Linked DNA regions of Homo sapiens. The protein of the gene in region 5 interacts with the protein of the main gene of each other region in a biochemical or structural test. Each region holds a gene or a part of one and is shown on either strand. Other genes may lie near its edges.

Region 1 (4,292 bases), on a different chromosome or scaffold from region 5:
AAAATCCAGATTTCTGACTTCTCTTAGAAAGATCTAATATTGCTGGGCCCACATCCCTATGGGGTAACAACCAGCTGGAGATGAATGGTGTTCACCCCTTTAGACAGGGTGTGTGTTCTGTTTTTTATCACACTCACCACCACCCCCTTAAGTCTCTTAGTTAAGTTGCTTTACTCATTTATGTTACCTGCTCTGCCCCAGTAGTCATTTGAGCTTATGCCTTCTATTGTGAGACAGTTTTTAATGAGATGCCCAGGCATAGTTGACATGAGAACTAAATGACCAGAGTTGGAACTTTGATTCATGAATATCATGTAGGATGGGTTACCACTGGGTTGCATAGTGGGGGTGAAAAGCCAGTTATATTTTCATGTCCTCCCTCTTCTGGGGGGAAGAGAGAAAGCTGATGCCGCCTGGAGACAGGATTCCTGATTCAAGTCCCCTTACAGCGCTTCCCATCTCGCCTCCCTGTGCCCTCCAAAAAATAAACTCCTCCAGGCTTGTTTTTTCCATACCTTTTATTGAACTCTGCAGACTTCATTAAGGGACCATTTGCTTAGAAATTCTTAAACATTTGGACATATTTTACAAGACAAGACAGCAGCTGGAGGTCACACAAAGATCACAATTTCATCTCACCACATGCATAAAAAGACACTGGGATTTGTGTGTGTGTGTGTGTGTGTGTGTGTGCGTGTGTGTTGCGCACATGCGCAATGCTTATTTTCACCTTTACAGGAAGGACTAGAGACATTAACTGACGAGAGATGAATAGGACCCACGAATGCACCCCCGAGAAAAGAGTGGCTGAGGACATTGGTCATTTATGGCTAATGTGATTGGCTTGGCCCCTGTCAAGGGTGAGGTGATCAGAATGGCTTTACTGGCAGAAAAGCCCCAACCTCACACGACGGGTTCCTGGGAGAGACAGGGTCTTAGCTGATGGGATCTGGGGGCATACTATCATGACGGCTTTGGGGCTCAGAAAAAAAGATCTTCGGCTCTAAAAGCTGGAGGGCAGGCTGGCCTTAATATCCAGCTGGACTCCCATGGCTCAGGGAATGCAATCCAGTTTCCAGATGTTGGCTCCTATGTTTCTGCCCCAGGAAGTCCCAGACCAAAGGAAGTCCCAACTTCGAACCCTTGGCTTAGTCCATTGGAAAACCACTTGGTGGTCCCCCCCATGGGTCGTGTGTGAGCTAAAATAGAACATGAGGCTGAGAAATGCAGGGTAGGGGAAGAGGAAGGAGGGCAGAGCTGCTCTGTGGGCCCCCAGGAAGTGTGGCTCTGAGAGGGCTGTGGCCCTTATCAGCTTGGGGCCTACAAGCATCAAATTGAGATGTCATCTTGAGTCAAAGAAAGATGACCTTGATGGGGCAGTTATGGGTTTCAGTGGGAGAGGGGCTCCTCATTTTTCTTCTCTTCACAGTTAGGTAGGGATTCATTAACTCCCCCATTCACTCACACATTCACGCATCCAGTCATCCACTCAGAGGCCAACCAGTCACACATTCACTCACTCACAAAAACACAGGTTGGATGACCATCATGTGCCAGCGGCATAGGTTGGGGATAACCCTGAGTTCCTGGTGCAGAAAATAAGATTCTCAGTTTTTGACCTTGGATTGAGAAGGACCTATGAAATCAAGATAGACCTGGAGAATCCTCCCTGTCCCCACCCACTCAGGCACACTCAGCTCAACCAAGAGGGAGGCCCAAACCCCAGTGAAGCCCAAGGGGCAGAGCCAAGCTGTGGATATGTCAGAGTTTCTTGGGCATCTTCTCTGCTGCCTGCCTCTTTCCAATCTTGGTTCAGATCAGGGAAGCAGGAAGTATGGGAAGATCCCTGCATGGCCCCTTGAGGGCATCCTAATGGGACGGAATTGGGAGTTTCTTATATTTTCATGAAATATCCTATTTTTGTCTCCTTGTGTTGTTGCAACTTGAGTGATTCTGCAGGGCAGAGCCTCCAGTGAGGAGTTGGGAGGAATCTTGAAAACTGGTTTTTATTTTATTTTGGTTTCAGAGGAAGGCGGCTGCTCATTCTACCCATCCAAACATATCATCCTGCCCAACCTCATACTAAAACAACCAAAGACAAACCAGTCTTCGGTTCACCCTGAGGTTGAAGTCTCACTTTCTCCCAATCCACCATACATAAACCCTCTCTTGTCAAATGCTTTCCTTAGAGAATGCAGTATGCAGGATGATTTGGGATGGAGGCCACAGCTGCAGGAGAGTGGCATTCTGCTTGGAGGCAGCCAAGAGCCTGGTTTTGCTGTGAAACTGGATTAAAAGCTGCCTTTCTCTTTTGACCCTTCTGGATTTTTTTCATTGACGGGGACTTTCAAAGGTCTTGAGTGGGGTCTCTTATTTGATTTACCAAAAAAACAAGCCCTTTTGGAATGGAGCCATTTGCTATTGCCTGGGAAGTTGTTCATTGTGGGGATGGCTAGTGGGGAACAGATATCATTGCATCTTTTATACAGAAAGCCCCAGGCTCATGAGGGCACAGGAGCTGGGCGGAGGGGCTGAAGCACCATAAGACAGCCAGCCAGGGATGGGGGACAGCGTGGATTGCTCCTTGGCTGGCCTGGGGAAGGGTAGCATGAGTCTCATCCCAATGTGGTGCCTGGTAGGCCACTGGGGATGGGTTGGATTGGTGACTGACAGTCATTAAAATGTTCCAAGACGGAGCCGGAAGGAAGCAGACTTGTCTCTTGGACACCCCCTCTGAGAGCTCCAAAGCCCAGAAGTTGCATTCCTGCTAATTGTGCTGCATGCCTTTGCCTCAGTGGCTTGAGCTTATATCCAGAGTGTTGAAACCACCTACACACACACACACACACACACACACACACACACACACACACACTCCAAGAAACAAAGAGGAATTTCTGTGGTTGTTCAGCCCAGTTTCCATGCAATGCTAGGGCCCCTCTGCAATGCCCATTTTTTACACCATCTAGCCAGCCTCTCTTTAAACACCTGTGATATAAGGGAGCTCACTGTCCACCATGGCATTGAGCTCCATGGTCAGACAACCCAGCCTGTTAGGAGGGCTTCCTTAATTTGAGCTGCAATTGACCCCATCCCTTTCATACAATAGAAATTTTCGGAGAACTTGCATACAGCCAGCTGGCAGCTAAGTTTTTTTCTTCAGGTGCACTGCCCCACTCCACCCCATCCTGGCCAGCCTTTAGGAGATCTTTTCAGGATCTTTGGAGGGAGGAACAGAGAATTAGGTTTATAAGTGAAGATGAGGGTTCCCTCGATTAACAGAGCCCTACCCAAATTCAAGTTGGCATTTGGGGTAGTTCAGGAGAAATTCTAGGTTAAGATAAAATCAGGGAGAGTGGATGGAAATGCAAACTATATAACCTCTTTCTTGATGAAAACAGCAACAGCCATAGGCAACAGTGTTTGCTTATCTGGGCATCAAACCCAGGAAACTACTGGCAGACTTTTTTTTGTTTTGTTTTTTTGCTTTTGTGCAGAGGAAAAAAAAATCTTGTCTGTTTTATTTGACTCTGGTTCAAACCAGACTATCAGAGGTTTTCGGGGTGGGAGAACTCTGATCAGGGTCATAGTCCAGAATAATAAAATTCATATTTGAGTTGGCTTCCTCTTGGGAGTTATCTGATGGGATGGCTCACTGCCATCTGAGGGTCCCAGTTTGGCTCAAATTTCTGATTCTAGGCAGAGCCCCAAGCCCTGCAGCTGACAGTGAGGTGGGTGGTATACCAAAACCTAAACGAATGCAAGTTGGAGATTATCTGGGCTTTCTTCATCTTCCTGCATGAGTTGACGGATGGAGAATCACTTTCTGCTGAAGATCCTGCCTAGTGAGATGTCCTCCGCCCACCCAGGACTGAAAACTGCCTCTGGAATTAATTATCAGGACAGTCCAAAAACTCCCCCAGGCGTGGATAGGTGGAAGCTGGAAAACTGCCCCTGTCCTTGCCACACACCTCCTGCTCTATGGAGCCAGGCAGCTGGCAAGGGAAGGGGAGATGAGCTAGCAGATTCGGGGACATCTCTTCTCAGGGTTTGGCTGCAAGGGTGTCTGGCCACTGTTTTTTGGTGAAGCTGTTAGAAATGGATTGAAATGGACTGGGTGCAGTGGTGGCTCACACCTGTAATCCTAGCACTGGGAGGCCGAGGCAGGCAGATCACCTGAGGTCAGGAGTTCAAGACCAGCCTGGCCAACATGGAGAAACTCTGCCTCTACTAAAAATACAAAAATTAGCTGGGCGTGATGGTGCGCTCTTGTAATCCCAGTTACTCAGGAG
Region 2 (4,289 bases), on a different chromosome or scaffold from region 5:
TGAATACAACAGACAGCAATCCCTGCCCACAGGGTGTTTATGTTATGGTGGGTGAGGGAGTGGGAGGGCAGACAATAAGCAAGAACAATGTAATAAGGTAGGGAAAGGGCATATGGAATGTTCAGGGAAGGGATTACACGTTTAAATAGGGTGGTCAGGGCAAATTCCTAGCTGTGGTATTTCAAGTGCCTCAGGAAGGTGTCTTCTGTACCTCAACCCCACCATCACTACACCTCAGCCCCTTGAAGGAATGGCATGGTATGTCCGGTTACTGGCACAAATATTTGCCAACATCTTATATTTAAGACAAAGGGAGCTCCGAGATCCAGACCTTGCCCTTAGAGAACTTACAGCCTTCCAGGTGGAAAAACAACTAAGCAGTGTTAAGGGCTTTACTGAGGTGTAAACAAAGTGCTTTAGGACACAGGATAACTGGCAATTCTGCTTGGGGGAAGAAGTATGTGTTCAGTAAGGCCGTTCCAAAGGAGGTGACTTTAGAACTCAATCTTGAGGGATGGATAGGAATTAATGTCAGGGGAGGGGGAATGAGGGAGGAAAGTTAGCTTTTTAGGAAGAAAAAAAGGAACAGTTTGAGCAAAGTCCCAGAGATGGGAATAGGGAGGACATTTTCTTCCTATCCTTGTCTATGGTACTCCATCCATCCCATGACAAAACTAGCACACGATCACCCTCAGGCTCTCTGGTATGGCTGTCAGGAAATCCATATCACTTACCACTCCCTCATTTCTCCCCTAGCCAGCAGGAGAGGAAGAAGTTGAGTCAGGCACACATCCCTAGAATCCAGGGTTACCCTCCCCTAACTTCAGGACAATTACCACAGAGCTGAAAACCCGGGAGATTTCATTCATCTAATTACACTCAGGGATGTGTACTTATAGTGGTAACGTGGCAACTGGCCCATGTTGGAAATGAAGTGGGTAAGACATCAGTAAGGTAAGTAGTCCATAGTCTCGGCAGTGCATCTAAGGTGGAAGCAAGGAGAAAAACATATACTTGGGCTTGGAAGACAATTTTTTAATCACTTAGTCCTCATCCATGAGCTATTCAGTGTTCCCAACATCTAAGACAACAGAGGTGGTGTGACAGGATAGGAACACAAGCTCTGCCTCCGAGATTTTGAGGGCAAGGCACTTAACTTCTCAGTCTCTTTTTCATCATAATATGGTTATAACTGTAGCACCTACTGTATAGAGTTATTGTGAGGATTGCATTTTTATGTAAAGAACTTATCACAGTGTCCAGCTCAATGGAGCCTAACAACCAGAGCCTAACAAGCTCAGAGAGCCAGAATGCTACATATACTCACAGATCAATTACCCCAGAACAGGCCTCCAGCTCCATTTCACTGCTCTGACCAAGAGTGAGACACCTGAAATTGTGTTACCAGAAATGTTCATCCTCTGCCCAAAAAGGGCCTCACAAGCCAAGTTGGTGGTGCTTTTCTACTAGGGTGCTAAAAACCAAACAACCAAAAACGCAGAAAACTTCATCAAGGCCACGTCTCTGCATTAAACATTGTTCCCACAGCGACAAAAGTCTTAAGTCATTAATACCTCAATATTAATAGATTTATGAGAGGTGGGGGTGGGGAGCTTAAAGAGCAGAAAATAAGCCAGTTAAATATAGGAGGTCCAGGATGTACAGAAGACTCATTTTTGCCACAAATATACAAGGTCTAGGGTCAACCCTGCCAAGCACAGTACTCTGGAATTTTACGTCCTCTAATCCTGAAGAAGCAGGGTACTGGGGGAAGAAAAGCTTGATTAGAAAGTCACCACTTTTCAAGCCACCAGAATTCTAACCAAATGATTTCACCACCCCAAATCCCACCTCATTCAATGTTAAGGGTTGGAGGAACACCTTTTTCTGCCCCATTACAAACCAACACAGGAGACAGAAGCATTCTGTGCCCCTTCTGAGATCTCGGGGACCCTCCTCCAGTACCAGATCTCTCACAGCCTGCTTGAAGAGCGGCAATATAAAGCAGCTCCACAGCACACAGCCAGGTCCCCAGCCCCAAGCGCAGAGGGAGCCCACTGAGGCAGGACTCCAGCCAACCAGCCTCCAGCCTTTACCTGTGGCTGACTGGCCAACGCCAGAGAAGCCGCGATGTCGTAGGTCCGAAGAGAGTGCGGGTTAGCGACCCCGCTCGACGGCCGAGCGCTGTGAGAGGAACCCACGAAAAGGTGACTGGACGCCTTGGAGGGCGCAGTTCCCGCTAGGAGCTCGGCCCCGCCCCCGCCCCCAGGGCCAGCTCTCGGGAGGGGCACCAGCTCGGGCTGGCGGGAAAAAGCCCGGGCACTCCCCGCGAGGGGAGCCGAAGAGGAGAGGGGAGGCGGCTCCCAGAGGGGCACAGACCGCATTAGTGCTGGGTGGGTCAGGGAAGGGGCCAGAAGAAGCCCTGGAGAAAGAAAAGTGGCCGGGAGGGACCGCCCAAGCAGACGGGAGTCCAAGCCTGGGGATGCGGTCGGGAGAGGCGGACGGGGAGAGGGGAGACGCGGTCAGCTAGGGAGAAGGAAAAATTGGGGGACCAGAGAGCGGGTAGGGAAGACGCACGACCCCGAGATGGGGGTGGGGGCGCTTCAGCAGCGAAAAGGAGCTGGGGGTCCAGAAGGAGCACCGGACCGAGGGCGAGGGGCCGGCCGCTGGCTGTTGACCTACCTGTCACTTGCAACAGGTGCCTCCAGAGATCGAGAAGTCCCAGTGCCGGTTTCAAGGGAGGGTCTCCGGCTCCGGGAAGATCGCAACCCAGCTCCGGCAGCCGGCCCTTCTCACCCTCCCGGGAGGCGGAAAAAGCTGCAACTTTCCCTGGAGCGGGGAGGAGCTGGACTCTTAAAGGGGCCGCACAGCGCCCCGGGCTCCTTAGCAGGGGGCCACTCAGCCCAAAAGGGAGCTCTGGGACCCAAAGCCTTGAGACACAAGAGGAATGTCCTTCCAGGTTAGGAATGGGAGCCTGGGGACTGAGGATAGGGGTCTAACACTAGACGTGCCTCCTCACCCACTTACTTCCATCTGTTGGTCACTCTCTTAGACGGTGAAATCACCTGTCTCTTTCGTTCAGCTGAGTCAAAAGTTGTCAAATTGTCTCACACTTCTAAGAAGATAAAAGAGTATGAACTATCTAATTTGAGTAAATAAAATATAATACCATTCTGATCCTTTGACTTGTGGCCTTTTATGGCAAATAAATGTCTGTCTAAAATAGAAACGTTTTGGGCAAAAGCGTAGACTAAATTCATACATACACACTCAAGGACACAACTGGTTAAAATATCCAACTCACTAGTAATCAAAGAAAAGCAAATTAGAACAATAATGAGATTCTTTGGCAAAGATATTTTTTATTTTTTAATAACACTTAATGATGACAAAGTAGCCACCAAACAAGCTGTCTTAATTGCTGATAGCAGCATATGTTGGTTAAAAACCCTTTTAGAAAGCACGTGAGCAATATGTATCAATAGACTTGAAAATGTTTATACCTACCCAGTAATTGCAGATTCCTCTCCCTGCCTCTCCCATCCCTCTCCCCCTCATTTCACATCAGCAATTAAACATGCTCAAGTATCTACCATCTTAAAAAAAGAACCTCCCTACACAGGAGGTCCCTCTTCAGGTCCTCTTTATGGGCAAATGTATTGAAAATGTACTTCACAGGTGAAATTGCAATTTTTATTCCCTTACTTCTCATTCATTTCTTAGCTCTCAGCAGTCTGGCTTCCTTCCCCCACTGAAACTTCTCAATGAGATACACAAACAATGACCCTCAGTGTCAATAAATCCATAAATAAGTAAGGTATTTTTGGTCCTTATTTTGCTTGACTTCTCCCCTACATTTAACACCGTTAACCATTTCCTCGTCCTTGAAACTTTCTATGGCATCTATGACATTTTACTCTTTTGCTTTTCCTCCTACTCCTTTGCCCTCTCCTCAGTGACCTTTGTAGGCCACTCTTCTGCTATCTGACCTCTGAAAGTCAGACATTCTCAGGGCTAGGATACATATACTCCCTCCCCCAAATAATCTTTTTCACTCACTTGGCTTTAATTACCATATATATGGTCACAACTCTAATTCTATAACTCTACCCAGACTGCTTTATTGAGTTCTGTGTTCTTGACATCTCCACTTGAATGTCCTGCAGACACCTCAAATTCAACACATCCAAAGTTAAACCTACCATCTTTTCTCTTAAATTTGTTCCTCCTCCAGTATTTCTTATATCAGTAAATGACAACATGCCACTCAAGGCAATGGATTCACCATT
Region 3 (4,148 bases), on a different chromosome or scaffold from region 5:
GGCCAGGCTGTTCTCGAACTCCTGACCCTCAGGTGATCCACCCGCCTCGGCCTCCCAAAGTGCTGCAATTACAGGCGTGAGCCACCACACCCGGCCTAGACTCTTAAACATACATACCCTGCTGTAAAATGACTGTCACTGCCTATTCCCCATTGCCTGTGACTGAGTCAGGGAGCCTTCCCTCTGCCTCCCCAGAAGGGCCCAAGAGATCAGCATGGAGACTGCAATTCGCAGGCATGTGTGCCAAATCCAACCCACGGATGGGTTTTGTTTGGCTCTTACCATTTTAGCTGCTAACTATGAAAAAATCTAGAGTTCTCACATAACTCTAGATTTCTGGCTTTTCTTTATTTAAAAAAAAAAAAAAAAAAAAAAAGCCTGACTGCACCCAGCCTGTAGTTTTGCCTGCTCTCAGTTGGCTAGCTGAGAGCAACTAATCAGGAAGCAGTAAAGCCTCCATCTTCAGGTGGCCCCATGGCCAGCCCAGCTTATGCAGATATTTGGGTTTTCAACTCTGGCCTAGTCTAATTTTCTTACTGTAAAGAGAAATATAAACTAAGACCCAGAGAGGAGAAGGGACACACCCAAGGTCACACAGCAGGTAGTACTGGCTGGCACAGGAGCCTACCCTAGCCTCCCGTCTCCATTTTCTCAAAGAGAGAACAGGTCCCATGCCAAGCTCCAGTTGCTCCAAAACCCAGAAGGCTTTGTGCTGGTAACTCCTGCATCTCTCTATGCCGTGGCCCCCACATCCCTGGCTTTGATTAGACTAGAGTGACTTGCTGCTCTGAGAAGTACCGTTTTCCTTTGAATCCTGGCAGAACAGACTGGCCCAGAGAACGTCAAGTCCAAACTCCCTCTCCTCACCAGCTTCACAAAGAGCCGCCCTCTGCTCACCCAAACCCTTGGCTTTTTTCTTCTCCTGTGGCCTTCGATGGTCTCGGTCTCCGACCTCGTCACTCTGCCGGATCTCTTCTGTGTTTGGATCCCCCTTGGAGGGTTCCTTCTCTCCATTGACTACTGGAGTTGGTTCAGGCTCCCCATTCCTTGCCACATAGGTCCGGGACTTCTCTGCATCTTCGGGTTCAGCCGGCTCACCCTGTGCCCCATCCTCGCCGGGGCCCCCCTGGTTATTGTCCACACAGTATGTGCTCAGTATGTCTTCCAGTTGGCGGCTCAGCTCCTCAGAGACATCACGAAGGGCCCCAGACTGAGCCGTTCTGGCTTGAGCCCCTACAGCAGGAGAGGATGAGGGGTAGAGTGAGAAAGAAGACGATTATACCACTGGTTGGGATTTTTCAGGCCCAGCCAAACTCATCAGTTTGAGTTAAATGTTGCCTAACTTTTTTTTTTATGGAAACTGAGAAGCAAGAATGGAGTATCATTCAGCAAATCTAGTTCCTGTCAGAATTTAGATTCGAAACATCTTTTAAATCAAGAAATTATAGTAATCGTTGCCTAACTTCTTTAAGTCTGTTTACTTGTAAAATGACACAACTATTTCTCACTACCACCCGAACATATTTGTTAGATCATAAAAGTATGTAAAGCATCAGCACACAGGGATGGCACGGAGCAACTTCTAGTCCATCTCCTTCCCCCCCACAAAACCATTTCTTGCCATTCAGATCATTCTAGAAATGCCTCAAACAGGAAGGGCAGTTAGCTGCTGGTGGCTGAGGTGTTTCTAACGGGACCTGGATTTCCTGACTGGGTGCCTCGTTTGGCTGCCACCTGACTTAATCCCGTCGGAGCTTCTCTCCAGAACTCTGTTCCTGTGCTTAGAGGGGGCAGCTCCGCCAACTCGCCAGAGCGCAGGGGGGACCGCGGCCCCCAGCACTGTCCTCTCATTCTACATCTCCTCCTCCCGGACAACCTGGCCTCGGCCTGTAAGTCCAGAAGCGAGGCCGACCCCACAGCTCCTCCCCCTGCCCGCTGGCAACGCAGAGCTGGCACACACCCTCCGGCTTCCGAGGAGCCTGGCTGCTGCCGGGACCTTCTGCTTCTACTGCAGGAGCCGCCTGGCTGGGCCGCTCCTGGGCTCCCTCGGGTCCTGCTTCCGGTTGTCCTGGGCTGCTTTTTGGATTGGATTGTTTGGCAGCCCCGTTCTTTTTGTCTTGGTTCTTCATTGTGATGAGCGATGCTGGGTCAGGAGAAGATCCTTTAGAAACAAACACAGTTGCTATTTTCCAGACTTCGAAATTCTTCGCAGCCTGGATCAGAAATCCCCACAGCAGGCGCACAAAGCTTCTTAAAATAAACGGACCGGCAGGCCCGGGCGGAGGGCGCCAACGGCTCTCTGGTCTTGGCGGGTCAGGAGAGCCCGACGTGCCGGGGCAGGCTTTCGGGGCGCAGCTCCCACAGCGGGTGAGGGAAGAGGCCTCTTCTCCCTGGAGCCACTTCCCGGCACAACCGGCCCCCTCGCGGCAGGCCGGGCGCGGGATTGGCTCAGGGCCGGAGACTGACGTGGCGGGACTCCCGGCACCGCCCCCGCCCCTCAGGCCCCACGTGCGCCCCCCGCGCGCGCAGCCACCCACGCCCCGCGCGCCCTCAAGCCGCGAGGCACGCCCGCGCATGCGCATATCCCCAGACAGCCCCCGGCCCACGCGGGGAGTTGGCGTGATTTCCCCACAGGCCGAGAACATCCCGGCCCGCACACTCTCAAATAGTCTCGCCCACCGGCCGCCGCTGCACGTACCTCACCGCCGACGTCCGATGGCTTCCCCACCTCTGGCCTCGCACCGGAAACCCCGAGTAACTGCTGCCGGCCAGCCGCCTGCTCCCGCCTCAGCCAATCAATAGCCGGCGCCGGCGCGGAGCTTGCTGGGAAGGACGAAGCGAGGGCGGCCTCGGAGGCGGGCGCCCCGGCAGGGCGGGGCAGGGAAAAGACTACGCGTCCCTCTTTACGCAGGGGCTAGCCGCAGATCCCAAGGTGCATAAGGGACTGTAGTCCTGGGAGTCCAAAAGGAGCCCGTCATTCTGCACGAGTGCCCATGTCAACCTTGTTTCTATCTCGCAGAAGCTATGCTTCAACTCCCAAAGCCTTGCGCCTGGCTGTTGTTTCCTGCAGGCCTCCATCAAACCTTCCTCCCTGGCCGTGAACAAATGTGACTCCATCCGGGAACTCCGAGGACTCGGGAAGAGGGATAGAGTCCTGGGCTGAGACTCAGGAGACCCATACTCCAGTCCCAACTTCATCACGGATTTGCTGTGTGGCTGGACGTTCTGTTCTCTCTCTGGGCCTCAATGTCCTTCTTCCAAAGGAGGCTTTTAATAACAATAGCAGTTCCTTGAACGCTTACTGTGTGCTTTCCCGCTATCTAATAGCTTGGTTCTCATAACCACTCATAGAAATAACTACTATCTGTTATCCCCATTTTACGGAAAAGGACAGTAAGAGAAAGGTTAGGTAACTTATCCAAGGTCATATCGATAGTGAGTGGTTAAAACAGGGATTCAAAACTGGTAAGTCTGAGACCAGCACCCAGGTAATTACCTGGTCTTTCACCCAGAAGAAACACTACCACAGCAGGTTTCCCTGAGGCAGTCAAGGTAACTTGTGAAAGTAGGTCATATTTTCCCCTCTCCATTACCATTTTGGCAGTCAGTTCCTCAGAAAGGTGCTGAGTTAGGCTTCAGGCATATTCATGAGCCTTTTCTCTACCCCACACTCTACAAAGTCTCACTGGGGTTAAAGTAGAAAAAACCCCCACAGTTCCCTACACATGAGATCACAATTCTGTATCCCCATTGCTTCTGGATAATGAAATCAAACCCAACAATCCTTGTGCCTGGAATTTGAAGCCTAAGAGATTTGACTTTTGCCAAACCCAAAATTTTTTGAGGCCCAGTTCAAAGGTCACTTCAGAGCCTTCCCAGTGCTCTGCAAACCGTACTTGCTCCCTAGGTCTGCAGAGTTGTTACAGCATTAGCAGTGAGGTGTTGAAATTACTATTTACTTATAAGTCAGTTAATTTTGCAAGAACTGTTGGCTAAATAGTCTAGTCCCAGAGCCTCGCATCAGGCTGTGGGTAGAGAAGATTGTAAACTGTTGTGCTAATTGAGCGTTGGTTTAGGGCTGTTAGGATGTTAAATATTTCCCCCAAAGGCTCAGTGAAAGACTTCAGAGCCGTGCATGTTGGATTTCA
Region 4 (3,500 bases), on a different chromosome or scaffold from region 5:
TTGCCACTCAGTATTCGCTGAGAGAAATGAAGGACCTGAAAATTAAAGCCACAGAAAAACTCTCATATTAATAATAATCATGTATTATAATAATAATGTAATAATCATGTATCCACCACAATATCCCTTCATGATCGTAAAAGCTACACACACACATTTTATTAGATTTAATCGTGACAATAACCTCACAAGCTAGGTAGGGTTATTATTCTTATTTAACTGGTGAAGAACTTGGGCTAAATGCAGTGGTTCTCAACCAGGGGCACCTGGAAGTGTGTTGGAGGGTCTGGGTTGCCACACTGACAGGGGAGGCAACATGGGCATTTAGTAGGTGGGAGACGGGGATATTAAATATCCTGCAATGTGCTGGACAAACCCACAGAATTATTCTGCCCAAAAAGCTACCACTTTGAGAAACACTGACAGAAAATAAATGGACAATGCCAAACAGCTACTAATGACCTTAAATATAAATTCAGTAACAAAATTCTGGAAATCACCAAGGACCAGCCAAAAAAAACCAAAACAAAACAGTGAAAGTATATCAAATTCTCACACTAAAATAAGAAGTCTAGGCTACTCTCCCAAAATGATAATACAATAAAAGTTAAAGATAACATAATTTCAAACTCAACATTTCTCTGCCACTTCTTTGCCAAGTTTTTCACTTCGCTTGTAATTGCCTCATTACTTTACTTGCAAAACCTTATCATCTTTAGTTACTCCCTAAGATTTTATACAAACAAGTCAAGCCCTTCTCCAATTCCCATTCTGCCACCCCTGTTTTGGATTCACTTTACTACCTATATGGATTAATAATTTTCTGTGAAGTTCACTTGGTCCATTCTTTTCACCTATACCACTACTCCACTAATCATGCTAAAAAATCATGCTTTCTTCCTGTCAGCATCTCCTATTACATAACTATGATTCCTAACTGAATATCATGCAGATACCTCAGGTTAAAATTGCAGACCCTCAACAGCCTCCTTATTTCTCCTGCTAACTCAATTATTCCAACTAGCCTCATTAGTATTCCTCCAAACTCGCATAATTCCCTTTTCCATGCTTTTGCCCATACTGTTTTCCTTGCCTAGAATAATTTTCCCACTCCTTCCTCCCTGTCATTCTGAATACTTATCTACCAATGTATAGAAATGTTCATCAAATGCAACAAATTTACATGTAACCTGACTTTGTGTAATGTCAGTAGAGCCCCAAATAATTCTCAAATTTCAACTGCTTATTTAGTTCCAGTCCTTTGGTTAGAACTGGAAACTTTTTGAAGGAAGGATCACATTTTCATTTCTTTTGTATTACTCCTCTAGAATACATAGCTACTTGAAATCATAAAATTCTTCCTTGAAGAAATCATTTAATACTGCACCTTCATTTTTATAGTAAGGAAAAAAAAAACTAATTCAAGGACATGTAATTATTTAGTGGAAAGCGAAGAACCAGAATTCAGGCCACAATTTATAATCTAATGTTGTCTGACACTCAAGTGCTTGTTAAATCAACTGTAAGGTAAAAAAATCACTTTGTAAGCCTGTCTCCAGCAACATTACTCTGCATTAAAAGACAATCCATGCCTCATCAAAACAGAGATTGTCTATTTCACTGTATTTTCCACCAGTCAAGAAGACAATGAATGAGGTTCTTCGATAATAATTTGACAATTCATTTTTAAACCTCAAATTTTTACACAAGTTCAGTAAACCTGAAATTCCATTTTTCTGCTCAGTCCTTGAAATATTCATATATATAATGACCTCATTGTGTTTAGAAAAAAAATTTACTTTAAAAATAAGATCAGGGTAACCCATGATTAAAGTATGAAGCAATTTGAAATTTTAGTAGTAAATCAGAAGTCTAGATAAAGACAGTAACATTATTAAAAATACCTTCATTCTTCAATCTCATATTCTCTCCAGAAGCCAAGAAGGTTTAGCATTCAGCATATTTATATCATATGTCATTTGCTATACATTAATGTAGTAAATACATTTAATTTATTTTGCCTCATAATTTGTTATGTATTATTAAAGGATTAAGATTTTTCACTAATCCTTGTCTACAAACATTAGCTATCAGATATATCTTTCTTCTTTGATTTTTTGGTTTTAACCCAGAGTAGATAAATCAATTTAGTAAAGTCTTCTAACATTTAGGAAGATATTCATCAGTCAAATTACATACACATTTGGAATTGTAATAGCCTAATCTTACTTCTGAAAACATCGCCTACTTTTCAATCTGCAAGGAAAATACTTTATCTAGAAGTCTATTTTCTGCTCTAATGATATCTTTTAGGATAACTGTGTTACAGACTACAAGAGTCTAATACAAGAAGAGAATAAAGGATCAAAAGAAACCAATTACAATAGGAAAATATACAAAAGATCCAAGTCAAAATATACACACTTGTAGTAAATCTGCACGTTAACCAAATGTGGAGATTCGGAATTTAGGTGTCCAGTTTCAAAAATAACAAAGAAAGAGACACTAACATATACCTGAAAGCACATATATGGAAAATGAGATAAAATAAAAAGGGCTTAGTCATTTTCTATAAATCAGAACCATAATAAATAAAGCTCATAAGCTCATCTGCTACTTAAACCCAACAGAAGGAATGACTAGGTGGTATTACTGGCAAGCAAGCCAATTTAGCACTCTGGAATGTCCATAGAAATCTCATAAAAAGGCAAAGTAGAAGGTAATTTAGTAAACAGTTTTCCATACTTCATTCTTAGTAAGGAGGTTCTAAAAAAAAACTTTAGAGTATAATTGCAAACTATAATTACAGGTTCACTTTTATTCACATAATATTTAACTATAGAAAGTACACCAAAAGTTATATACAAGTGACAATTTTGGCCACCTGATCCTTGATTTTAATTGGCAATTCACACTAGGCCTAACGCTTTACACCTTTTGTGCCAACTTGCTAATTACACAAATGCATTAGGGTAAAAGTGTTGTCTAAGAATCTGGTTTTATAAAATCAGCCTTGCTGGTGGTACTCACTTATAATTATACTAAATTATAAAAGGGCCAGATTGGATGTTACAAGGAAAAGAGGTTATTTACCAAAAGAATGTCGAGACCACACTGGGAAAACAATAAAACCTAAACTCATTTTACAGAAAAGCAAAATAAGGGAAAAATAGCTGATTTAATTCAACTTTACTTTCCTTCTTCTAGTCCAGTTATGAAATTATCTTGTTGGGAAAAAAAAGAAACTGCTTTCAGTTCCAAAGAATGCATCTAGATCCAACGCTGTACTAGTCTCGTCACTACAGAGTTTTGCTGAACACTCAGGGCCCACACTGACAAAATAACTTCATTCCCGTCTTCACACAACCCTAAACTAGATGGTCTTGATCACTGAGTTCAGGAATAAAAATATCTAACAATTGAAGCCAAAAAACATTCTGGTCATAACTATCTAGATATTTGGGCAAGAGCACTTCAGACACACCGTCTCAGAAATTAAC
Region 5 (3,500 bases):
TCCCGAGTAGCTGGAATTATAGGTTTCCACAACCATGCCTGGCTCCAGTGGTTTTAATTCAGGTGGAGCCCAGAGGTCCCAAGCTCCCTTTCCAGAGTGGGCCCTATAAGGGGAGACCTGCCTACTGTGTCCCAGCCCTGGGCACCACTAAACCCCAGTCCCGAGGTGGCACGGATCAGATCTCTTAGGAATCTCCTGTGAGTCTTTTTTTAAAACAGTTTTTAAATTTAATTTTTATTTTTGTAGAGACGGGGGTCTCACTGTGTTACCCAGGCTGGTCTTGAACTCCTGGCCTCAAGCGATCCTCCTGCCTCAGCCTTCCAAAGCACTGGGATTGTAGGTGTGAGCCACTGCACTTGGCCTCCCTGTCGGTCTTGCCATTGGACCTCGGTCTGCCTCCTTCCAGTCCCCAGACCTGGGCCCAGCAGGCACAAGGGGACAGTCATGTTGCCACTTGGCTTGGGTCCTGCCTTAGGCCTCAGCCACAGTTACAAGCCCCACTCCACTGTCCCAGGACCAGCTGTACAAAAGCCACCCCCATCGTGGGGCAGGGGTAATCATACTTCTGACTTCCCAGCATGCTGCGCACAATTATTACTGTCTGCCTCATACCGCCAGTTGGCCAGGGTCAGCCCACGCTGCTGGCAAGGCCAGGTCTCTCTCTGCAGCCAAGGCAAGGATATCCGGGGTGGCCACCCTGGGGCAGGGACTGAGGTCTCTCAGCCTGGGGCTCAGGGCTTGTTCCCACCTCTTTTATTTTTATTTTTTTATTTTTTGAGAGAGTCTCGCACTGTCACCTAGGCTGGAGTGCAGTGGTGTGATCTTGGCTCACTGCAACCTCCACCTCCTGGGTTCAAGCAATTCTCCTGCCTCAGCCTCCCGAGTAGCTGGGATTACAGGTGCATGCCACCATGCCCAGCTAATTTTTGTATTTTTAGTAGAGACAGGTTTCACTATGTTGGCCAGGCCGGTCTCGAACTCCTGACCTCAGGTGATCCACCCGCCTCGGCCTCCCAAAGTACTGGGATTACAGGCGTGAACCACCACATCTGATCTTGTTCCCACCTCATTTCTGAGTGCCTCACGGGAGTGGCCACTGACTAGCTCAGCACTGACCCCACCTCGGTGCTCTCGCGTCAGGACGGAGGCAGGTGGAGGTTGAGGGGCTGAGAGAACTGATGGGACTCATCAGGCTGGGCCTTAACCCCTCTGGCTCTATTTACTCTTCTGTGAAATGGGGACAGTGACACCTGGCTGCATGGAGGGAGGGCTGAGAAAAAGTGGGGAAGCAGGGCAGGTATGTTTGTTTGATTGATGGATGGACTGATTGATTGATTGAGACAGGGTCTCGCTCTGTCACCCAGGCTGGAGTGCAGTGGCACAATCATAACTCCCTGTAGCCTCAACCTCCCGGGCTCAAGCCATCCTTTCACTTCAGCCTCCCAAGCAGCTGGGACTACAGATGCATCAGATGCATGCCACCACACCCAGCTACTTTTTGATTTTTTTTTTTTTTTTGTAGCGACAGGGTCAAACTATGTTGCCCAGTCTGGTCTCAAACTCTTGGGCTCAAGTGATCTTCCCACCTTGGCTTCCCAAAGTGCTGGGAGTATAGGTGTGAGCCGCCACCATGCCCGGCCTGAGCATGTTCTGTGAGGGGCTCACATCACCCCATCAAAGTGGGGACTCATGGGGAGAGGGGGTAGTTAGGAGCTTTGATAGAGGCGGCTCAGAGGGGCCTCCTCTCTTTAAGATATCGTACCACCTCCCCAGCAGCTAAAATAAATCCTCGTTCCCACTCCCCACCGAGTGCCTGGGGCTGTCACCAGGTGGTACCCCCTCCCCCACCAAGCTCCCTACAGACACAGAAAATCCAGGAGCCGTTTTCACGCTTTTAGACCGTGACAGGCCTAGGAGTTGAGTCAGAGGAGCCCTCCCTAGGGAAACTGAGGCAGAGCACTGCCAGGAGGAGCCCAGTTCCTCCTCCTGGGCAGGCTGCCAGGTTGGGAAGTGGCCCCAGGAGCTCCTGCCATTCAGTGTCCTGCCCTCTCTGCCCTGGTGCTCAGAGGATCAGGGTAGATGACAAAGGGTGGATGGAGAATTATCCAGCTCCTTTTCCGTGGCCAGAGACGAGCGTCACTGCCAGCCCCACCGAACCCCTGTCCTGCCCTCAGAGACCCCTGGCACCTGTCTGGTGCCTCTCTTGACCTCAGCTTGCCCATCTGTGTAATGAGGGCAGATCTTCTCCAGGCATCCGGCCAGCTCTGACCTGCTACCTTCCCAGAAGGCTGAAGGCTGGACCAGGAAGCTTCTCTAACAGAAGGGCTGGGAGGAGAGATGCCCGCATCCTCCTCTGGACCCTCCGTCTATGAGGGTAGGGCTGGGGAAAGGGAGATCAGGGCCAGGGTAGATGGGGGCACGCAGGTCAAGTCTACCCTGGAGGTGGCATTGAGATTGGCCCCAAAGCCAGTCGGGGGGCTGAGGGCCTGACCTCTGAGGCATGGTCAAACCAGCCACAGCTCCAAGCAAAACCTAGAGGGGATGGGCGAAGTGGGCCTTTCCTCCCCACGTCCTTCTACTTCTTCGTTCTTGGGAATTTTCACCCCCAGCTCTGCTCTTTATCCTGCTGCCCTCCCCTGGGATCAGACCCCACTCCCCCACACCTACAACTGGTTCCTGGCCCTACAATCCACCCTCTGCCCCCAACTTCCCCCAGGCACATCCCTTTGCCCGGGATGCTGATTCCATGAAGGTGACATTCCCTTCTTCCTCGATGCCACCTCCTTCCAGAAGCCTCCCTGCCCCCCCAAATCAGTATCTCGCACCTTGTTCTTCCACACGCCATTCACATTCCTATTGGAGCCATGGCTGAAAACTCTCAGGCCCTAAGGGACCTGAAAAGTCCCCCTGGCTTCAGCTGCCAGCCTCAGCTTGCAAACCTCCTGTGACAGTGAGCTCACTAGCTTCCCCAGACAGCTCTGCCCATCTCGGGCAGCCCCAACTGTTAGAGTCCTTCTCTTCCCTGTGGTTTGGTTCCAGGCCATAAAGAACCTGTGGGTGCCCTCTCCCTGGGGTACCCCTGCTATAGATTTGAAGGCGGCATCCACATCCTCCCTAGATTTTTCTTTTTAAGTATTCCTTCCCTTTCAGATCCTTCCCAGGGACCCCAAATTACAGCCCCTGCCCAAGAGTTGTTCCACTGTGCCTCTGTCTCCTGTCATACAGCACACAAACTGAATCTGCTGCTGACTGTGGTCTGGGCAATGCCAAAGATCTGGCCCATCCCCTCCCTCTTTCTATATGATCTACCTCTAGTAATACAGCCAGGAATCAGATAAGTGATCATGTAGCATTTCCTGTCAAGAAAAGCCCCAAGCCCTTCCCAACCACTGTCTGTGGAGTGGATTTGGGGTTCGAGTGAAGGACCTTCTTCCTGTTTCATTTCTTCATTTGTTCTGATGCTTATTTCAGTTTGTGGGATTCTGATGGCTCCTGGCTCT
Region 6 (3,500 bases), on a different chromosome or scaffold from region 5:
ACACGGACCACGGTGCAAGCTCAGCATCGCTTACGACTGCAGGCTCAGAGGCAGCACTCCTCTCTGAAACACGTCCGTGCCGCTGGCCAGGGCCAGGCAGGACACAGGTAACGCGTGTGTCTTGAACTGTTAGCCTGGGTTCACTGCAACGCCGGATTTGACACGCGCCCCTGTCTGTCTGTAACAACAGGCCTGGGTCTTCCGTTGGCTGCTGCATTCTTCCATTGGGGACCTGATATCAGGGACCTGACGACGGGGACGGAGGCATGTTCTGAGCAATTCTTGTACGGTTTGACTTCTACCTGCAGATCCCGCCAAGGGGTCGTCTGGCACCAGTGCATGCCCAAAGCATCTGTCTCTCACTCTGAAGATGTGTGTGGGGTGGGGGTGGGGGTGGGGGTGGGGAGGGAGGCCTCTTTTTGTAGCTCCATTTCAGTGCAGTCCAGTGAATGTGGAGCCCAGGAAGAAATTACTGAAGTCATAAGATTCACTAAGCAGCCCATTAAGAACGAATGAGTCTCGTGCCTGGGAAGAACCATCACACCTGTCCAGTCTCAGCATTTCCACGGCTGCGAGACTGACTTCTCCTCCTGGAGCCTGACCTCAGCAGCTGTGAAATGCCATCTGTTCCCTCTCCTAAGGGAGGTCAGCGGCTCGCCTCTGAAGGCCCACCCCTGACCCATTGGTAATGCGTCCTGGGGCCGTGCTGGGCTCGGCTGTCTTCTAAACACACAGCTTTTCCAGAACTTCTATGAGTATCCAGAGGCTGACCTTCTAGTAGTCATTTTCTTAATGCCAATTTTCTGAGTGGTGCCTCTGAGTAAATGCCTGAATCCTCCCTGAACCACCAGCCCCTGAGAGGTGGCTTTGGCCCACTGGGCAAGTGTGACCTGCGTGCAGGGATTGGGGAGTCAGAAACGTCTGGGATCAAATCCCACTCTGCTCTGATGGGGACACCAGGGGGAACGACCCCGGCCCTCTGGTCCTCAGCATCTGCATCTCCAACACAGAGACCTAGTGTGTGCCCTTCCCAGGGTCTCATGAAGATGGAGTCAGAAATGCTGGGAGAGGGCTTGGTGCTGGGCAGGCCACCTGCACTCAACACGAGGTGTGTCCATTTCATGGTGCCAGAGCAGGACATCAGCAGCCGGAAAGGTTCAGTGACAACTAGATGGATCAATAGCTAGTAGATAGGTGGATAGGTCGATAGGTGGATGGATGGATTAATCCATACATAGATGAATGGATGGATGGATGGAACAATGGATAACAGATGGATGAATGGATAGATGAATAGATAGAAGATGGATGGATGGATAGATCCATAGATAGATGAATGGATGAATGAATGGATGGATGGATAGATAGATGGATCGATAGGTAGATGGATGGATCAATAGATAATGGATGGATGGATGGATGGATGGATGATAGATCCATAGATAGATGAATGGATGGATGACTGGATGGGTGGATGAATGGATTGATAGGTGGATGGATCAAAAGAAAATAGATGGATGAATGGGTAGATGACAGACGGGTGAATAGATGATTGACAGATAATAGATAGATAGAATTGTGGGATGTGTCCCTCCCCCAAGTTCATCTGTTGAAGTTCTAACCCCGCAAACCTCAGAATGTGACTTTATTTAGAGACAAGGTCTTTACAGAGGTGATCAAGTTAAAGTGAGGTCATTAGGGTGTCCCTAATCCAACAGGACTTCTGGCCTCATAAAAACGGGGAATTTGGTTACAGAGATATGCATAGAAGCAAGAAGTATAAAGAGGCACAGGGAGAAGACAATCTCTGAGACAAGGAGAGAGGCTAGAACAGATGCTTCCTCACAGCCTCAGAAGAAATCAACCCTACAGACACCTTGATCTTGGACTTCCAGCCTCCAGAGCTGTGAGACAATAAACGTGTGCCTTTTAAGCCTCCCAGTTTGTGTCATTTGTTACAGCAGCCACAGGAAACAGATACAGATAGATGATGATGATAGATGGATGGATTAGGTAGATAGGTAGATAGATGGGTGAATGATTGATATAAAGACCAATAATAAAGATAGATAATGGATAGATAGATAACAGATGATTGACGGATGGACCGATGGATGATAGGTAGATGGCAGATCCATAGATAGACATGTGTTTTATCTTAACTACATTTTAGCATCTTGACAAAGTAACACCACAAATGAATTGCAGGACCCTCACCTAGAGCAAGGGAATGAACTATCCAGTCCTTGTCACTGCAGATCTTTAAGGTGGGACCCAAGTTCAAGTGGCGTGTGCCATGCCTGTGTCTTAGCAAAGCAGGGCTGGATGCCCATGATGCGGCTGGCTTGCTTTGAAAGCTCCAGCGTCACCACCATGATCCGCGCTGCGCCAGGGTGAAGGGAGGCACCCGCATATTACCTTTCAGTATGGGGCAGATCTTCCAGACACCAGCGGCCCCTTCCCTGTTGAACTGGCCGAGGGCCAGCTCCATGTAGAAAAGTGGCATCCCAGCAATGACCATGAAGAGCAGGTAGGGGACCAGGAAGGCACCTGTGGGGCAGAAAAGCACCTTTAGTTTGGGGCCTCGGAAGGGCCCATCTCTCCTCGTGGGAGCTTGGGCGGCTACCCCAGTCAACCATCCATGTCCTGGCCCGACCGTTTCACCCCACTCTCCAACGGGAAGTCCCAGGCTAGGGTAGATGAGTCCCGAAGCCCGCCCTCCACTGCTGTCAGTGCCTGACACGTCCCTCCTGGATCCCCTTGTCATTGCGCACCTCGAGCCATGAAGTCAAACCCAAGAGCAGCACAGGGAGGCCCTGCCCATGCTCAGCGGTGCTCTAGGTACTATCCTTCCCCGTGGTGGTTCGGGGTGCCCTTCCCTGGCCTGCGTCCCCCCACTTTGCCCTGATCCTCTTTGCCTCTTGAGTTGTGAATCTGTGACCCCCCAACTCTGCCCCTGAGCTGAGTGGGCCCTGCCGTCCTGTCCCCAGCTTCTGGGGCCCTCAGAGGCTGCCCCTATTGACTGTGGCTGAGGGTCTTTGCTGCCCCAGGTGCTGGGAGCCCCTCCAGGGTAAGGCCTAGTTCCTCTGAAACCTGCACCTCCCCCACCCCCAGCACAAAGCCCAGGGAACCCTGGTCTCAACCTCCTAAATTCCCTCTGCTCCCCTGGTCTGACTGGAGTGAGGGAGAGCTTTGCCACTCTCTCTCCTGGGGAAGGGGAGGGGGAGGCATGGGGCCCCTCAGCTCTGTCTTTGGGCAACTTCCTGTACCTGCTGAGGCCTCTGTCTTCCCCTCTTCAAGATGGGCATAAAAATGCCAGCCTCCTCGCAGGCATCCTGTGAGGCTTCCCCCCAGATTCTTCCCCAGGCCTCCCTTCCCAGACCTAGCATAGAGGCCAATGAGGGAGGCCAGGCAGGGAGGCTGGGAGGCCCAAAGAGGCTCCTGGGAAGGGATCACCAATGTTCTTGGACGTCCCCGGTGGCCCTGCCTCGATCTTCGCT
Region 7 (3,925 bases), on a different chromosome or scaffold from region 5:
GACTGATTATTTTGTTGTGACCTATCTATTTGTATATTTGATTTGTGCCTGTTTTTCTTTTATTTCTGTTTAGGTACCCTGTTTGCTATAATGAATTATTCCCTCCCACCATTATGCCTTCCGCTTGAGTCTCTTTCAGAACCAGTCATTTAACTTTAGATAGAAAGATTTTTCAGAATTGTGCTAAACTGGATGAAAATCCCTGGGGTTCTTTTTCAGTTCTGTCTAAATCATGCACTCAGGACGATAGTTGTGAAGGCTGTGTGATCATCTCAGAATCTTTCATTGGTTTCAGCATGGGCTATATATTTTTTAAGTTCATTTGTGTCTTTTGAAGAAATTCTACACACCTGAGACTATGCTACAGATCTTTACTGGAAGTCTCCAGGTAACACTTCTTAATATATTTTCCGCATAAGTAAAATACTTTTGTTCTGTAAACAATGGCAAATGTCATCAGAAGAAATTAGGTTCCAGAAAGAACTTCTAAAACAAGCAAATCATTGTATTACTCTTAAATTTTATTAACATCTTCAGTTTGTGCGTCATTTAAAATGAGACATGTGCTTTAAAAAGCATTCTTATACATAAATAGACCAAGGAACAGTTAGGTAATTGATCCCTAAAACATGCACATCAATTTTATTCAGGTGTGTATAAGAAAGGGAAATAAGCTTTAAACCTTTTTCTTTGGATTAAAAACATTTGGAAATTATTCAGGAATGCCAAATGTTTTTCTGGAACAGATGTATTTTCCAATAGGAAATACTGATGCAATTAAGAGGCATTAGTGTTGATAAAGAAGACTGGAAAAACGTTTGTGCTATGCTAGATAAACAAGAAAAGAGTTCAAGTGGGCCTAAGATCTATGTCAAATAAATGAATCAGGTAGCATGAATTGAAAGGTTTGGATAGAAGAACAGGTACCATGAGCCAGATTATGGGACACATATATGTTCAAGGCACATGACTAGGCTAAACAGGTGGCTAGATTCTACAGACTAATTTGTTCATTCATTGAGAAAGTGTAAAATGTAATATAATTTCAATTTAATGGCACTTATTGATAAATAAATGCAATTGGATCTAGGGTAGAAAATGTCTTCCTTTCAGATACACACCAGAAATGCATACTAGATAACAGATGCCAGTAGCGATATGATTACAGTCCAATTTTCTTACACTGCAGTTAAATGGTTGTTAAACTGTTTTGTATTAATTCTATATGTCATACTGTCTATTCTCTTTCAAGTTTCACAAAAGAATTCATCAAAACTAGGCAGATTTAAGAATTTATTTAACCACAAAGAATGCTCAAAACTATTATTCAACAGGAATCAAGCCCAAACCCTGGAGTTGACTGCTGACCGTATTCGGTTTGGGCTTTTCCCAGAATGGAAACACTTTTCCCACACTACCTCCCTTTGCACAGCTAAAATGCTAGCATATCCACTGTGGTTCCCTTCTTTTTCTTTGGCAAGTCAGAGGAATTTACCTCCCCACCCCCTCTACTACATATTCTATTAGCGACACGATTGCCCTAAATATTCACAGAAGAAAAAGGAACACATTTAAAAAACTGCAACTTTCAACAATATTTAAACCTTCATCTTCTCAAATCAACTGCAATGGGAAAACAGAAGATATCAAGCTATCCACTGTATTGTGAATGATCAGCACACTGAACTTTATTCCTGAAAGTCAATATTAGGAGGACAAGGATAATTCTGTGTGCTTCTAATGGGCTAGCAAAATGTTCCCCATCTAACTGAAATAAGAATGTTTCATACTTTACTTGTCTGAGCTCTTAGAAGGAAGCAGCACCAACATCATTACAATTCCCCAAATAACAACTATTATCCATTTATATTGTTTTGAAGCACCTAAAACTTCTCAATAACAAAAGACATTAAGATGAGATGTTAGCAATACTGTCTCTTGAATACTTTTGTGTGCACATACAAAGTTTCTCCATAGTTTTAGTAGATAGCTCATAAGACTAGCGGCGACAGCTTTGAGCAATTAAAAACAAAAATGTTTCTCTAAATAGATGACACTAGTTAACAAACCAAAGAAATAAACAAAAGCCTTTTTAAGGCTACTGCTGCAATGAATGGTTCAATCTGAAGTTCACAGGAATAAACTGGTAGATAAGACAAAGATAAACCTGGAGGCATGGAACAAGATTTTAAAAAGTGAGAAGAGGGTTGAAGAGACTGGCAGATACCATCTGTCAGTATGTGAAAGGCTTGAGTCACATGGATTGCTTTTAACTCCTTGTTCTCTCATATCCTTGGTTAATGGTAACTTCTTCTTTCCTATTTCTTCACACAGCTTGGCCATGTAAATCCACCACAGAGAGGTGAAACAATGATATAGATGAACACCTGGAGGGACGAGGAGAGCAATTTTATTTTCTTGAATCAATCATATTATTCTAAATAATATATATAGGAAAGTAGAGCCTTATTAAGAAATACTTCTGATTCCATTAGAGTAGCAGTTATGTAGTAATGGAACACACTAAACAAGTATTTTCCAAGACAGAAGTGTAGTTAACATTGTCGTTTTTGGTATAACTCACACCCACTTGAACTCTAGCGTTTCCTTCAGTGGGAGAGAAAGCAGTGGGGTTGTTGCTCTTCACTGGTAACTCGGCAGAATCAAGGCTAAATGAGCAACTCATACTGATGTGTCATTAACAAGTCATAAAAAAATCACAAATAACCATAATTCTCCTGAAGTATGGTTTCATTAATTATATTTTTAGGTTTTGCACATGAATTTTATTTTTGATTAATATAAGAATATATTTTAAAAGCCTGAGTAGAAGGCTTTCATCTATATCACTTATGAGCAAGAACACTGCTACGAACTGTTCAGTGGATAATGACACAATAATTACGATGACCAAAACAATGAAAAGCAGATGATGTAAGTAACACTGCAAAAATACTGGTGCTATTACAGATGTGTTTGCTTTTTAATTCTAGATTATAATTTTAAATTATATTATAAAAGTCACTACTTGTTCACATTATTATATCACAAAAAATAGATTTTAAACATTAGGTTCACTGCATTAGTCACTTTATTTTATTTATTTTTTATTTTTTATTTTTGTAGAGATAGGGTGTCACTATGTTGACCAGGCTGGCTTCAAACTCTTGGCCTCAAGCAATCCTCCTGCCTCAGCTTCCCAAAGTGCTGGGATTACAGGCATAAGCCCCTATGCCTGGCTTTATTTTGCTTTAAATTACAACTTTTTGAGATCTTTAAGTGACTGATTTCATTATTTGCAAGCTTGGAAAAGGATGCATTGATGAATTGCATGCCCTTTGCTCCAAAAGTGAGCAAAGCATTTTGCCTTGTAGGGAACTATAAATATTGCCAGGGTTGGGGGGCAGATTACAGCAAATTCTGTTTATTAATGAATAGGTTGAACTTCTGACATCATATTCACACATACACACACATACTCACACATACACATGCCACAAATGTAAAGTTTACCAACTTGATGTAAAGTTGACTATTTGTCACAGCTGTAATATAAGGATTTTTCAAGCTGAAGTACATCTCGTTAGGTGACAACACCTTTTCGCAAAGATTGATATTGCATTTAGAGCTGTGCTCTGCATGTAATAAGTAATCAGTAAATATATTCTGAATTTAACAATTCAGCTGCACAAATCAACCTAAACTCCCAGACCAAATAATAAGTAAGAAGCTAAGCTCAGGAGCCTAAAATGTGATATTAGAAAGAGAAACCTGAGCAAGGAACCATTCAAGGCCATGACAATTACTTCCAGTATAAAATCTACAGATCTATGACTGCTCTTCTCTTTTAGATAAATCCAGCTGTCTAAGGCAGAGGACCCTCAAGCTGTGGTAGAGGAGAAGCAGGGTCAGAGTTATCTGCTTG

Evidence for each region.
Region 1: the proteins of STX1A (region 5) and KCNB1 form a complex in vitro, tested with the Homo sapiens proteins (one study listed by BioGRID).
Region 2: the proteins of STX1A (region 5) and SYTL4 form a complex in vitro, tested with the Homo sapiens proteins (one study listed by BioGRID).
Region 3: the proteins of STX1A (region 5) and TXLNA form a complex in vitro, tested with the Homo sapiens proteins (one study listed by BioGRID).
Region 4: the proteins of STX1A (region 5) and STXBP5 form a complex in vitro, tested with the Homo sapiens proteins (2 studies listed by BioGRID).
Region 6: the proteins of STX1A (region 5) and SLC6A3 form a complex in vitro, tested with the Homo sapiens proteins (one study listed by BioGRID).
Region 7: the proteins of STX1A (region 5) and VAMP7 form a complex in vitro, tested with the Homo sapiens proteins (one study listed by BioGRID).

The regions. Positions count from the first base shown.
Region 1 is NC_000020.11:49,363,377-49,367,668, forward strand, and holds the end of KCNB1 (potassium voltage-gated channel subfamily B member 1), read right to left. Parts: 3' UTR 501-4,292; downstream 1-500. UniProt on the Homo sapiens protein: Voltage-gated potassium channel that mediates transmembrane potassium transport in excitable membranes, primarily in the brain, but also in the pancreas and cardiovascular system.
Region 2 is NC_000023.11:100,729,322-100,733,610, forward strand, and holds the start of SYTL4 (synaptotagmin-like protein 4), read right to left. Parts: upstream 2,801-4,289; 5' UTR 2,683-2,800; intron 2,214-2,682; exon of another isoform or gene 2,185-2,213; 5' UTR 2,097-2,184; intron 1-2,096. UniProt on the Homo sapiens protein: Modulates exocytosis of dense-core granules and secretion of hormones in the pancreas and the pituitary. Interacts with vesicles containing negatively charged phospholipids in a Ca(2+)-independent manner.
Region 3 is NC_000001.11:32,178,327-32,182,474, reverse strand, and holds the start of TXLNA (alpha-taxilin), read right to left. Parts: upstream 2,801-4,148; 5' UTR 2,699-2,800; intron 2,411-2,698; exon of another isoform or gene 2,162-2,410; 5' UTR 2,130-2,161; coding exon 1,961-2,129; intron 1,234-1,960; coding exon 898-1,233; coding exon of another isoform or gene 799-897; intron 1-798. UniProt on the Homo sapiens protein: May be involved in intracellular vesicle traffic and potentially in calcium-dependent exocytosis in neuroendocrine cells.
Region 4 is NC_000006.12:147,207,417-147,210,916, reverse strand, and holds part of STXBP5 (syntaxin-binding protein 5), read right to left. Parts: intron 1-3,500. UniProt on the Homo sapiens protein: Plays a regulatory role in calcium-dependent exocytosis and neurotransmitter release. Inhibits membrane fusion between transport vesicles and the plasma membrane.
Region 5 is NC_000007.14:73,709,670-73,713,169, forward strand, and holds part of STX1A (syntaxin-1A), read right to left. Parts: intron 1,729-3,500; exon of another isoform or gene 1,648-1,728; intron 1-1,647. UniProt on the Homo sapiens protein: Plays an essential role in hormone and neurotransmitter calcium-dependent exocytosis and endocytosis.
Region 6 is NC_000005.10:1,438,941-1,442,440, forward strand, and holds part of SLC6A3 (sodium-dependent dopamine transporter), read right to left. Parts: intron 2,551-3,500; coding exon 2,419-2,550; intron 1-2,418. UniProt on the Homo sapiens protein: Mediates sodium- and chloride-dependent transport of dopamine. Also mediates sodium- and chloride-dependent transport of norepinephrine (also known as noradrenaline). Regulator of light-dependent retinal hyaloid vessel regression, downstream of OPN5 signaling.
Region 7 is NC_000023.11:155,940,345-155,944,269, reverse strand, and holds the end of VAMP7 (vesicle-associated membrane protein 7), read right to left. Parts: intron 2,388-3,925; coding exon 2,319-2,387; coding exon of another isoform or gene 2,131-2,318; 3' UTR 501-2,130; downstream 1-500. UniProt on the Homo sapiens protein: Involved in the targeting and/or fusion of transport vesicles to their target membrane during transport of proteins from the early endosome to the lysosome. Required for heterotypic fusion of late endosomes with lysosomes and homotypic lysosomal fusion.